Regions from separate parts of the Homo sapiens genome. Here region 2 is linked to region 1. Evidence: fine-mapped expression QTL. Tissue or cell type: whole blood. Region 1 holds a variant in brackets; the other region holds the start of a gene. All regions are shown on one strand. Distances are between the middles of the regions.

Region 1 (5,820 bases):
TAAATTCATTAAATTGAGTTCAAATTCTGCTCCACTCAAACTTATTCCGTTTATTCATTCAAACATTAAAAGAACTACAGTGTATGAAGCAGTTAGCTGGGTAGTAGGTACACAAAAATAAATGAAAATAAACAAAATGTCTTTTTCTTTGTGGAAATTATAAAATGTGAATGTATGTGTATGGGGATAGATGGGCAGGGGAGTATCATTGTTACTGCAATGGGGGTGAGTACACATGTTGTTACTGAAGAAAAGGAAGCTCATCTAACCCTGGCTTGGGGACAATTCATTCACACTGTCTGTGGTCTATAGAATGGGTTGGAGGGCTCAGGACAGTCTTGGAGACGAACTAAAACACCAATGAATAATTCAGGTGAGATGGTAGTGGTCTGAATTAGGTCTGTGACAAGAAGGAGAAAAGTGAATTTTGAGACACTAGGAGTTTAATTAGATAGGACTTGAATTTCATTGAATTAGAGGAAGTGAAAGTGAGTTCTAAGGCAGAAGATAGTGAATTTAATTTTGGAAAAGTTTAATTTTATGTGGGATGTGCAAGTGGGGATTTGAATCAGAAGCTCAGAAGGGACAGAAGCCCTGGAAATAGATTCTTGGGTGTCACTCACATATGGTACTGTCTGGAGCCATGTGAATTGAGAGCACAGGAGGAAAGTGTGTCAACTCAACAAGGTCAGAGAAAGTTTGATGAAGAAACCTAAGGGAACATGGAGATTTAGAGGCTAGAAAGAGAAGAATATCCCACATATGTCAAGAGAAGAGAGGGTTAAAGAAATGAATACTTGGCATGATCAAATGCTACCATACATTCATATAAGGCTTTATGATATGTGTGATTTTGCATATATTTTCTTACTTAATCCCTGTAATGGCTTTATGGTTCATCTATCTCACTTTTCCACTTTTTTCTAAAAGTGTTTAGATAAGAAAACGGAGGCCCAGGAACACAGCAATTTGTTCAAGATTACAAAAGTTGGCTGGGTGTGGTGGCTTAGCCTGTAATCCTAGCACTTTGGGAGGCTGAGGCAGGCGGATCATGAGGTCAGGAGATCAAGACCATCCTGGCTAACATGGTGAAACCCTGTCTCTACTACAAATACAAAAAACAATTAGCTGGACATGATGGCACATACCTGTAGTCCCAGCAACTTGGGAGGCTGAGGCAGGAGAATTGCTCGAACCCGGGAGGCAGAGGTTGCAGTGAGTCGAGATTGTACTACTGCACTCCAGCCTGGGTGACAGAGCGGGACTCTGTCTAAAAAAAAAAAGATTACAAAAGTTGTGAAAAGCAAACTCGGGTGTTGAACAGATTTCTGGAGTTTCTCAGGTGCAGAGTGGTGAGTCCAGACTGCAAAGTGGCGCAGTTAATGTGAGCCCTCACTGTGTGCAGGCACTGTGCTGAGTGCTTTGTGCACATTATCTCATTTAATTTTCAAATCTTATACTATAAACTTGTTAACATTATAATCCCCATTTAAGGAATGAGGTAGAGGAAGCTCAGAGGTTAAGCAACCTGCCCAAAGTCATAAAACCAGTAAATGGTAGAAGCAGAGGAATTCACGTCCATTTGCTGTATGACACACGTATTAACAATTCCATCATTACGTATGAATTTCTTTCATCCAAAGACTTCCCTGATTTTTTTTTTTTTTGCCTACTAATGCTTCTGGGCTGCATAAAGATAAAAATCTCAATAAATAATAGTTATTTTGAAAGGCCTACAATGTGGTGAGGTGCTCAACTAAATAATTTATTTGTAGTCTATTCACTCTTTACAAACCTGAATGGGAAAGTATTTTTACCCCCATTTTACAGATGAGAAAACTGACCCCCAGAGATTAAATAACAATACACATTGTACGCATGTTTCAAAATATCACTTGTACCCTTAAAAATTTTTTTAGAATCACATGGGTCCTATAAATATGTACAAATATTACATATCAAAATGTTTTTAATTAAAAAAAATAAGGACAGAGTAGGCATTCTAGCTCAAATCCTTTTCCTTTTCTTCTTCTCTTCTTTCTTCCTTCCTTTCCTCCCTTAGCCAACCCTCCTTCCCCATCTCCTCTATCCTTCTCTTTCATTTGGCCTACTGCTTCTTAGGTGACAATAAGAGTGAATTTAGAATGAGGCCTTTAGGAATGGGATATAGGTCAAGGCACTGGGATTCAGAGGAGACAAGGGGTAAGCACTTTGCTAGTGTAATTGTAATGTTTGGAACTCAGTTAAAATGTTCACCAGACTCTCTGGTGCCCTGATATACCCACATAGGGGCTTGTGTGATTGAGAACTAAGGTTTTTAGACATTTAGTTTGAAATATAATTAACTGTGTATATCAAAGTTTGTAATTTGAGACTAATAATTGAGAATAAAATTGATGGATAATTAAGTAAAATAAAATATATCTTAGACATAAAGAATAAGATACCTTAGTGGTCATTCATAATTTGTTTCATTTTTATATAAAAATTATTTGCTTCCCATACACAAAACCTGAGTGCTCATCTACTTGATGATTTATGACACAGAACTGGAGTTACTTATGTCAAAGCTCTGCTTTGTTTTTTTTTCTTCTTTTGAGATGGAGTTTTGCTCTTGTTGCCCAGGTTGGAGTGCAGTAGTATGATCTCGGCTTACTGCAACCTCTGCCTCCTGAGTTCAAGTCATTCTCCTGCCTCAGCCTCCCAAGTAGCTGGGATTACAGGCGCTTACCACCATGCCTGGCTAATTCTTTTATTTTTAGTAGAGATGGGGTTTCACCATGTTGGTTAGGCTGGTCTCAAACTCCTGACCTTAGTGATCCACCTGCCGCGGCCTCCCGAAGTGCTGGGATTACAGGTGTGAGCCACTGCACCC[G/A]GCCCGAAGCTCTACTTAGAAGGACAGCAGTGCTCTATGTTCAAGACAGAGCTTTTCTCTGTGCCTCAAAAACCAGTTGAAAAAGAGCATTGCAATATTATGTGTTAACTGTTCTGTAGACCAAAAATGTTGGTTATATTGATGGCAAAACCTGAAAGAAATCCACAACGCAGAATTAGGTAGATACTGCCCCCTCTCCCTTGGAACTTTATACATTCCGCATTTTTACTAAAATGCTTATGATGCTGTTTCACGATTTGTTTATATCTCTGCTCTGCAACTTTGAAATGCTTGAAAGCAAGGTTTAGGTCATATGTTTATCTTTGTAACCACAGAGTTTAGCACAAATTATGTCCTCAAGTTTACAGATTTAACTAACCATAGTCAGGGACTCAAATATTGTGTAGCCAGGCATATGTTCTAAACCAGAAATTGTCCCAGTGTTTTCCTCACTTCACTTAGGATCACATATGGTGTTTTTTTTTTTTTTTTTAATACAGAGTCTCGCTCTTGTCACCTAGGGTGGAGTGCAGTGGCACGATAATGGCTCACTGCAGCCTCAACCTTCTAGGCTCAAGTGATCCTCCTACCTCAGCCTCCTGAGTAGCTAGGACTACAGGCATGCACCATTACTAGATAATTTTTATATTTTTTGTAGAGACAGGATCTTGCTATGTTGCCCAGACTAGTCTCCAGCTTCTGGGCTCAAGTGATCCTGCTGCCTCAGCCTCTCAAAGTGCTGGAATTACAGGTGTGAGCCACCACACCTACCCACTTAGCATCCTGTACAAATTTTACTGTTAAAGAATTTTATGTTTTAATAGACTTCTACCAAGCAAACTACAATTTTAAAAATAATCTCTGGCTTCTGTTCATTGTTGATACATACATATACAATACTGGTTGAAAAATTCCAACCAAGAATGAAGAAATGTGATGTTTTGGTTAGCCTTGGTAATGCTATTGTGGTTAACTAGTATTCTTATTTAACCATGTGAACTACTAAAGTATCATTCAACTTCATTTTTTAACTGTATCATTTATTTTAAAGATTTATCCCTATTGATATAGCTAAACTTAAGCCCATTCTTCCTTAAAAACATGCATTAGAATGTCAAACCTCTAATACAGGTTTAGTGGTTACACCTGGGAAGAGAGGAGGGCAGAGATGAGGGTAGATATGTTTCTATTTCTGTAATGCTTTATTTCTTTAAGAAAAAATCTGAAGCAAATATGGCAAAATATAAACCTGTTAAATGTGGCTGGTGGGTACATATCTATCTAATTCATTTTCTGTATGTTTGAAAATTTCATACTTTAAAAAGTGAAACAGCTGATTTCAAATGCCTCTTTTAAACAAGCACCCATGTAAAATGGCATTAATACATTTACTTATTTTTAAAAAGTTAAAAAAAATTCTAAGATTGAAAACATTTGCCCTTAACTTTAGAAAAACTTTAAAAGCATCAGAGTAAATATAGAATTCTAATTATAGACAATAGAAAAAGACAGATCAAGAGAGATTTGAAGCTCTCAAAAATTGAAATTTTGATATTTAAAGTTAAGATTTCATTAAAGCCTATGCATCCTAAATTACCACCTGTACTTAGACAACTCAATGTTTAGTATAGACATTTGTAAATTCCAGACACTCACACCCAACAGTCTGCTTTACAGTTTTTCTCTGAGCCCCATATGATCCAAACGAAAGTCATGGGCCCCTGCACTGTCTTTAATGTAATACACATAAACCTAGTTCTCTTATTCCAGTGACTGGAGTCATGCAAGTCAGAAACCCAGGGAAGTTTCTTAATTGCCACGCCTTACAATGTTAATATTACTTCATCACATGGGTTTTTTTTTTACAGCAGTCTTTTAAAGATTATGTCTATTTTATGAAGATTATTTCAGTTAAACTAGCACTATATTCATAAAGCTACTTAACCTGGCATACATAAACAGAGGCACAGTCAATATGTGAAAGTCAACACTGTGGAACGCTCATCCTTTCCTTACATTACCTCAGCTACCCTAAATGAGTCATGACACCTGTCATACTGACTAAGTGAATCCCTAGGATAAATATTAATGAAGCTTAAGTTTTTAATATGTGTTTGTACAAGTTTGAACACTTTGTCCTTGCTGTCCAGTGGAACATCTTGTATACTCCATATTGGAGACTGCAACTCTATACTGTGGTCAGAATATTTTTGAAACTCAAAATGATTATGTTTCTCTTTCCTCCCTATCCTTCATATATTAACCTTCCAGAGACTTCCTATTTGCTCTAAATATGAAGACCAAAATCTTTAGCATGGCGTTTGGTCAAGTCTTTTCACAATTTGTCCTCTATCTCCCTCTTCAGCCTCACCTTACCAAAAGCTAACCCTTGCTCTTTGATACAAAGATATGAAGAAATGCACCTCCCTATGGTTTGATCGTAGCACTTATTTCAGTTGTAATTTTACTTGCATATTTTATTGTTTGTTTAGTATCTACCTCCTATACCACAAGCTATGTAAGTTATTTTAAGAAGTAAACAATCAAAATGAGAAAGAAGATAAAGCAATTTCTCAAAAGATTGATATTTTCACAAGACATCGGCCAATGAACCTAGATAAAAGATCATGTGTAAAAACACCAAAGGGTCAAACGATGGGAAAATATAAAAAATAATATTTATTGTTTATAAGAAGAAAATAGAGGCTTTAAAAAATATCTTATTTCCACTTTTTTTTAGGCTTTTTAAAATTAGAAAAAATAATAAAAAATGGCCATAACTTTATTTTGGAGAAAGGCTCAGACCCACCACTTTGAGCTGATGGTATAAAATTATAGATGACAGTGACAAAACTATTCAATGTTTATTTCTTTATCAGTATTGCCATTTAGATATGCTGATTATGAAATATTGCCTAGCTGTTCTTTATAGTTGTTCTTTATAG
Region 2 (5,406 bases), 200 kb before region 1:
GGGAACCCCTGAAAGTAACATTTGGAGAGTGAGCCTTCCAAGAGACCACAATAGAAACTGCAAGGCTTCTTCTGACCTAGCCTCAGAAGTGATCCAGTGTCACTTCCACCACATTTTATTGGTCACAAGTGAATCACAGAGGCCAGGCCAGATTCAAAGGAGGGGAGTTAGGTGCTGCCTCTTGACAGGGAGCAGCAAGGTCACATTGCAGAAGAGCATGTGGGTTGGGAGATGTATGTGTGTATGTATGTATGTATGTATGTATGTATCTATCTATCTATCTATCTATCTATCTATTTATCTATCATCTATCTACTATCTATCCATCAAGAGAATTTGCCACAAGTAAGCAAATATTCTATATAATTTCAGGTAGAGCTAAAAACAGAAGTGGTATTTAGACTGTTACAGATACAAAGGATCTTCTGGGGTGATAAAAACCATTCTAAAATTGTATTGCAATGATGGTTGCACGACTCTGCAAATTTACTCAAAATTATTGTACACCTAAGGAAAATGAACATTATGATATACAAATTGTACCTCAATATACCTGTTAAATATACAACTAGCATGCCACAGGCACTGAAGGATAAGAACAGACATGATGCTGGCCTTGGTTCCAAAACAAGGTTTTTTGTTTTTTGTTTTTTGTTTTTTTTGAGACGAAGTCTCACTCTGCTGCCCAGGCTGGAATGTAGTGGCATGATCTCAGCTCACTGCAAGCTCTGCCTTCCGGGTTCACGCCATTCTCCTGTCTCAGCTTCCTGAGTGGCTGGGATTACAGGCGTCCACCACCATGCCCGGCTAATTTTTTGAATTTTTAGTAGAGACAGGGTTTCACTGTATTAGCCAGGATGGTCTCGATCTCCTGACCTGGTGATCCACCCGCCTCGGCCTCCCAAAGTGCTGGGGTTATAGGCATGAGCCACCACGCCCGGCCCAGAACAAGATTCTAAATCCCCTTTCAGTTACACAGCAATAGATGTCCCGGGAGGGATGGGCTCCAGCATTTTGTTGAAACTATCTAGCAAGCCTCCTGCAGCTGTTACCACTGCAAAACTAAGTGTGTAGTTAGTGGAGTGGGCGGGGTGGTAGGGATACTGTGAAAAATTGAGTAAATGACAAAGTGGGACAATGACATCAAAGGAGAGGGCAACAGACAGGACAGCAACATGAGGAAGGGCAAAAGGCAGGAAGATTCAGCCAGAAAAGCAGGACGATCTTAGAAAATTCTGCTACTTGTACTTCCAAAAAAGTTAAGAAAAAGAACAACCAGAATTTGCTAAAAATGGGAATGAAATAGATACTAAAACACCAAATAAAGGGCTCTAGAGAGGGAACAGGAACTCTAGTGCCCAGGCTGTTCCCCTGTCACTGCTGTATGCATATTCAGTATCTCCCTGGCCTGCACTGGCCTCTCTGTTCAAGTGGGCCCTGTCCTTCTCTGTGAGCAAACTGTAGCCAAAAGAATTTAAGTGCTCATTTAGTCAGTTATATATGTATTATCAGAGCTTAGTCTTCAGCAGACTGCCTCCAGACACTCAGGAACTTCCCACTGGCAACCAGTGTTACCCGGGTCTCACCGATCCCGGGTGAACAGTGGTAATAGGGAGGAAGATGAAGGATAGAACCATTGCACAGCAGCCTTTTGCAATCATCTAGTCCTTTAGGAACAGTTCTGCTGTGCTGTTTAGTCCTCAGGCCACACTGTGAGAACAAGTTACAGAGCACTGTGGTGAGTGCTGAATGAGTCAGGGAGTAGAGATAGGAAGAGAGAGAGAGAAAGGGAGAGGGAGAGAGAGACCTGTAGGTACATAGAAAAGGCAGGAAGCAACATATGTCCTTGACTCATTTGATACTGCACTTTGTTCCACTTCCCAAGGATTCAGTCACTGCAATTTACCTTTAGCATTCCAGGCAGATAGAATCCTGCTCTACATATGAATCTGGGCACAAAGCCATGCAGGTGTGAGTAAGCCCATGAAGGAAGTGGCACTCAAAGACTCTAGGAGTTCAGGCCAGGTGCAGTGGCTCATGCCTATAAGCCCAGCACTTTGGGAGGCCGAGGTGAGTGTATCACCTGAGGGTGAAACCCTGTCTCTATAAAAACACAAAAATTAGCAGAGCATGATGACGGGTGCCTGTAATACCAGCTACTTGGGAGGCTGAGGCAGAAGAATCACTTGAACCCTGGGAGGTGGAGGTTGCAGTGATCTCAGGTCATGCCATTACACTCCAGACTGAGTGACAGAGCGAGACTGTCTCAAAAAAAAAAAAAAAAAAAGACTCCAGGAGTTCTAATATGCCCCATTAGGTGGGCACCAGAATGGCCCCTTGTAACTTTTTCCTACCTTCTCCTCTCCTAATTCTTTTTCTGTGGAGGAAACAATAATTGTCTCTGAATCATCCCTATTCGGAGCATTGAGGATATATTAGAAGGTCTGGGTAAACAAGCAGAAATATTGCAAAAGTGCTAAAACATCAAACTTCAGGGTCGAATTTGTGGTTTGCTTCTGCTTTTTCTATCCACTCTAAAGGTGTTCCTGATAGAGAAGCTTCCTCAGTGTTCCCTGTGTTGGTGTGTAAGACAGAAAGAAGATGGGGTAAAAGAGTGCACGCATCCTCCACTACAAACCAGAGGCTGATAGCATTAGGGAGAAGCTAGGGTTTGGCCTCACACAAGCAGTTTGCACTGTTGTCCAATCCCAGGTGGGGTGGTTGCCTCTTCATTTCCTTTGATAGCAACCGCCTGTTGCGTGATGTAGTGTGGGTGTCCTCAGAGGTAGCTACCTAAGTTTGCATACTTCCTGACTGACAGAACACTCCTGCCAGTGCCTCCAGGCCAGGGTGGTGGTGTTGGTGGGAGGAGTAAGTAACCAAGTTTCACTTCCTTGCCTTGGAGACTCAGAGCCATAGCAGGCTGCTGTCTCACAGAGCGAGAAGGTGTCAGGAGCAGCCCAGTTGTGTCTCTCTCTCTACCTCTGTGAAGGGCGCGAATGGGCAGAGCAGAACTTCTAGAAGGGAAGATGAGCACCCAGGATCCCTCAGATCTGTGGAGCAGATCCGATGGAGAGGCTGAGCTGCTCCAGGACTTGGGGTAAGGCAGCAGATCTCCTTTCAAAGTACCTAGTGGGTGGACATTGACTCCGCACTCCCACCTGCATGCTTTGATTAATGACTATCTTCAGTGCCTTGTTGCCCTCTGCCACCTCAACCATTTATTTTTTTCCACTTTATTCATTTGTATCTGTTAAGTATCTTCTTGTCTGGGGCTAATTCCATTGGAAAAGCAGGCATTATTTTTCTAGATGTGAAAACAAGTTGGTTGAGAAAATAGGGAAAAAAATCAAATGTTGGACATTCTTTGAGAAGAGGGACAGAATTGGGATATAGAGGTGATGTTGCCTGGCTTCCTTGATGTTGCTCTGGTTTATGAATAAATGCGCTGTTCAAGAGTTTCTAGCACTGACCCAGGGACAGTAAAAGGACTGTGTTTCTGGTAAGATAAACAGAAAGCTTACCCTACTGTAAGGGAGAGGGACTTTTTCAAAAGACAGAGAATGAGGAAGTTCCTGCAACAGTCTCGCTTGTATATTTCTTTCTCCTGATACTGCATTTGTGAGATTTGATATCGTATGTATGTCCAGAGAGCCAACTTTGAGCCTTTCAGTACCAACAATCCAGGAAGAGGATAAAATTTCTGCTTCAAACAGGTAAGCATAGGTAGGTGGAGTCATTGGAGCTCTGTCTTTAAGAAGGGACCCAGATGACAACTCATCCGGGTATTTAATAAGAAACAAGTATTACACAAGAGAGGAATTGGGGATTTCCCAGAGAAACTGCCTAATGCACTGGGAATATCCCAATGAAGGTGGCTTTGACACCTGTGCATGAGGAGAGGCAAAACCTTTACCTTCTGCCTGGACAAATAGCTCTAACTCTTCATAGCAATCCAATGACATAGGAGCTGTTGTCATCTTCATCTTACAAAGGATGAAAACAAGTACCAAACAGGTTTGAATAACTTGCTTGCTAGTCACACATCAATTACATAGCAAAGCTGGGCATCCAACCTACCACAGGCTATGTCCGAAACCAAAGAAAAACCAAAATAGAGTTGAAATCTCTCTGTGTTAAGGCTGCAGAGATTGTATCTTTTTATGTTGTATTACTGTAAAAGTTTATTAATAATTCCTGTCTTTAGATTATAAAACTGAGGTCTCGGAATTGAACTCTACTTTCATTTGGCAAATCAGATAAAACACCTGGAATTTTCATTAAAGAAAACTCCCCTTATTAGGAAGCCAGAGCTCTAGAATCTCTCTATCCCTCTAGATTGAATCCCCAAACAGAAGAGGTAAAAGGCCCTTCTGTGAGCATCCAGCACAGGTGTCACCAAGTCCAAAAGCTAAAGCTGAACTGTGGCCCTCAGTGTCTTATTGAACTATTAAGTTACAATGCTTTACATGTTCTGTTAACTGTATTCCCAGCCCACTGTAATAGAAAACCCCAAAGGAGGAGATAGAGGAATATATTCAATTCTGGTCCTTTAGTTAAACAAACAATCCTAGAACCCAGAGTCTATGGTTGAGTACTGTGGGAACACACTTAGATGACAAAGATGAATTAGATGCTGTCTCTGTGCCCCACCATGATGTCAACAGCAAGAAGCAACTACAGGTGAAACCCACGGGTGGAATAGGACTGTGTCTTTCCTCCATGTGCAAAGAATAGACATTGAATACAAAACTGAGTCACACCACTTCCCTGCAAAAAAAAAAGGGTACATTCATGGCCAGATTTCCCTATTTCAGAAGGCGTGAACAATTAATAAACATGAGGATGATTTCTATAGCAATGGGCAACCTGCAGTTATCTGGGAAAACTGCTCTACAGTCCTGGTTCTTGACCTTGGCTGTGCTCTGGAACATCTTGACACCCAAACCACAGACTTGACAAATGATTTCAGTATCTCTGGGGATGGGTGTTTTCTTGTCAAACTCTCCAAGTAATTCCAAAGTGAGACCCTAGGTTGATGATCACTGCATAGAATATGTATCTACCAAATGCATTAGGTAAATGTGGTCTTGTTTTTCATTTTAAGTCTGTTGGGTGTGTACTTGAATCTTAAAATTACTAATAAATGTTGATATTTTGTTTGTTGGTTTAGGGGCATTTCGATTAGCAACTTTATTGAGGTTATTTTACATATCATAAAATATACCCGTTTCAAGTGTACAATTCAATACTTTTGACTAACTTTACAGAGTGATACAACCATCACCATAAATCAGTTTTAGGACATTTCTGTTCTCCCAAAAAGAACCCTCAGATGTATGGCTTATTTAAGCATACTCAACAGTGTGCTGGAAAAACAGCTGGGAAGAGTTGGGGTGTGGAGAA

Evidence for each region. PIP is the estimated chance that this variant, and not a neighbour inherited with it, causes the effect.
Region 2: DAPP1 starts here. The variant in region 1 is fine-mapped to the expression of DAPP1 in whole blood (TOPMed, PIP above 0.99).

What each region holds. Positions count from the first base shown.
Region 1 is chr4:100,013,228-100,019,047 of GRCh38, forward strand. The region is part of intron 1 of H2AZ1-DT (H2AZ1 divergent transcript); the gene reads left to right. Among named protein-coding and RNA genes, the nearest start is that of H2AZ1-DT, 66 kb to the left of the region's middle. The variant G/A (reference allele first, on the strand shown) is at 2,876.
Region 2 is chr4:99,813,915-99,819,320 of GRCh38, forward strand. DAPP1 (dual adaptor of phosphotyrosine and 3-phosphoinositides 1) reads left to right here and starts at 2,913. Exons shown (of 9, transcript NM_014395.3): 1 at 2,913-3,100. The coding sequence starts at 3,000.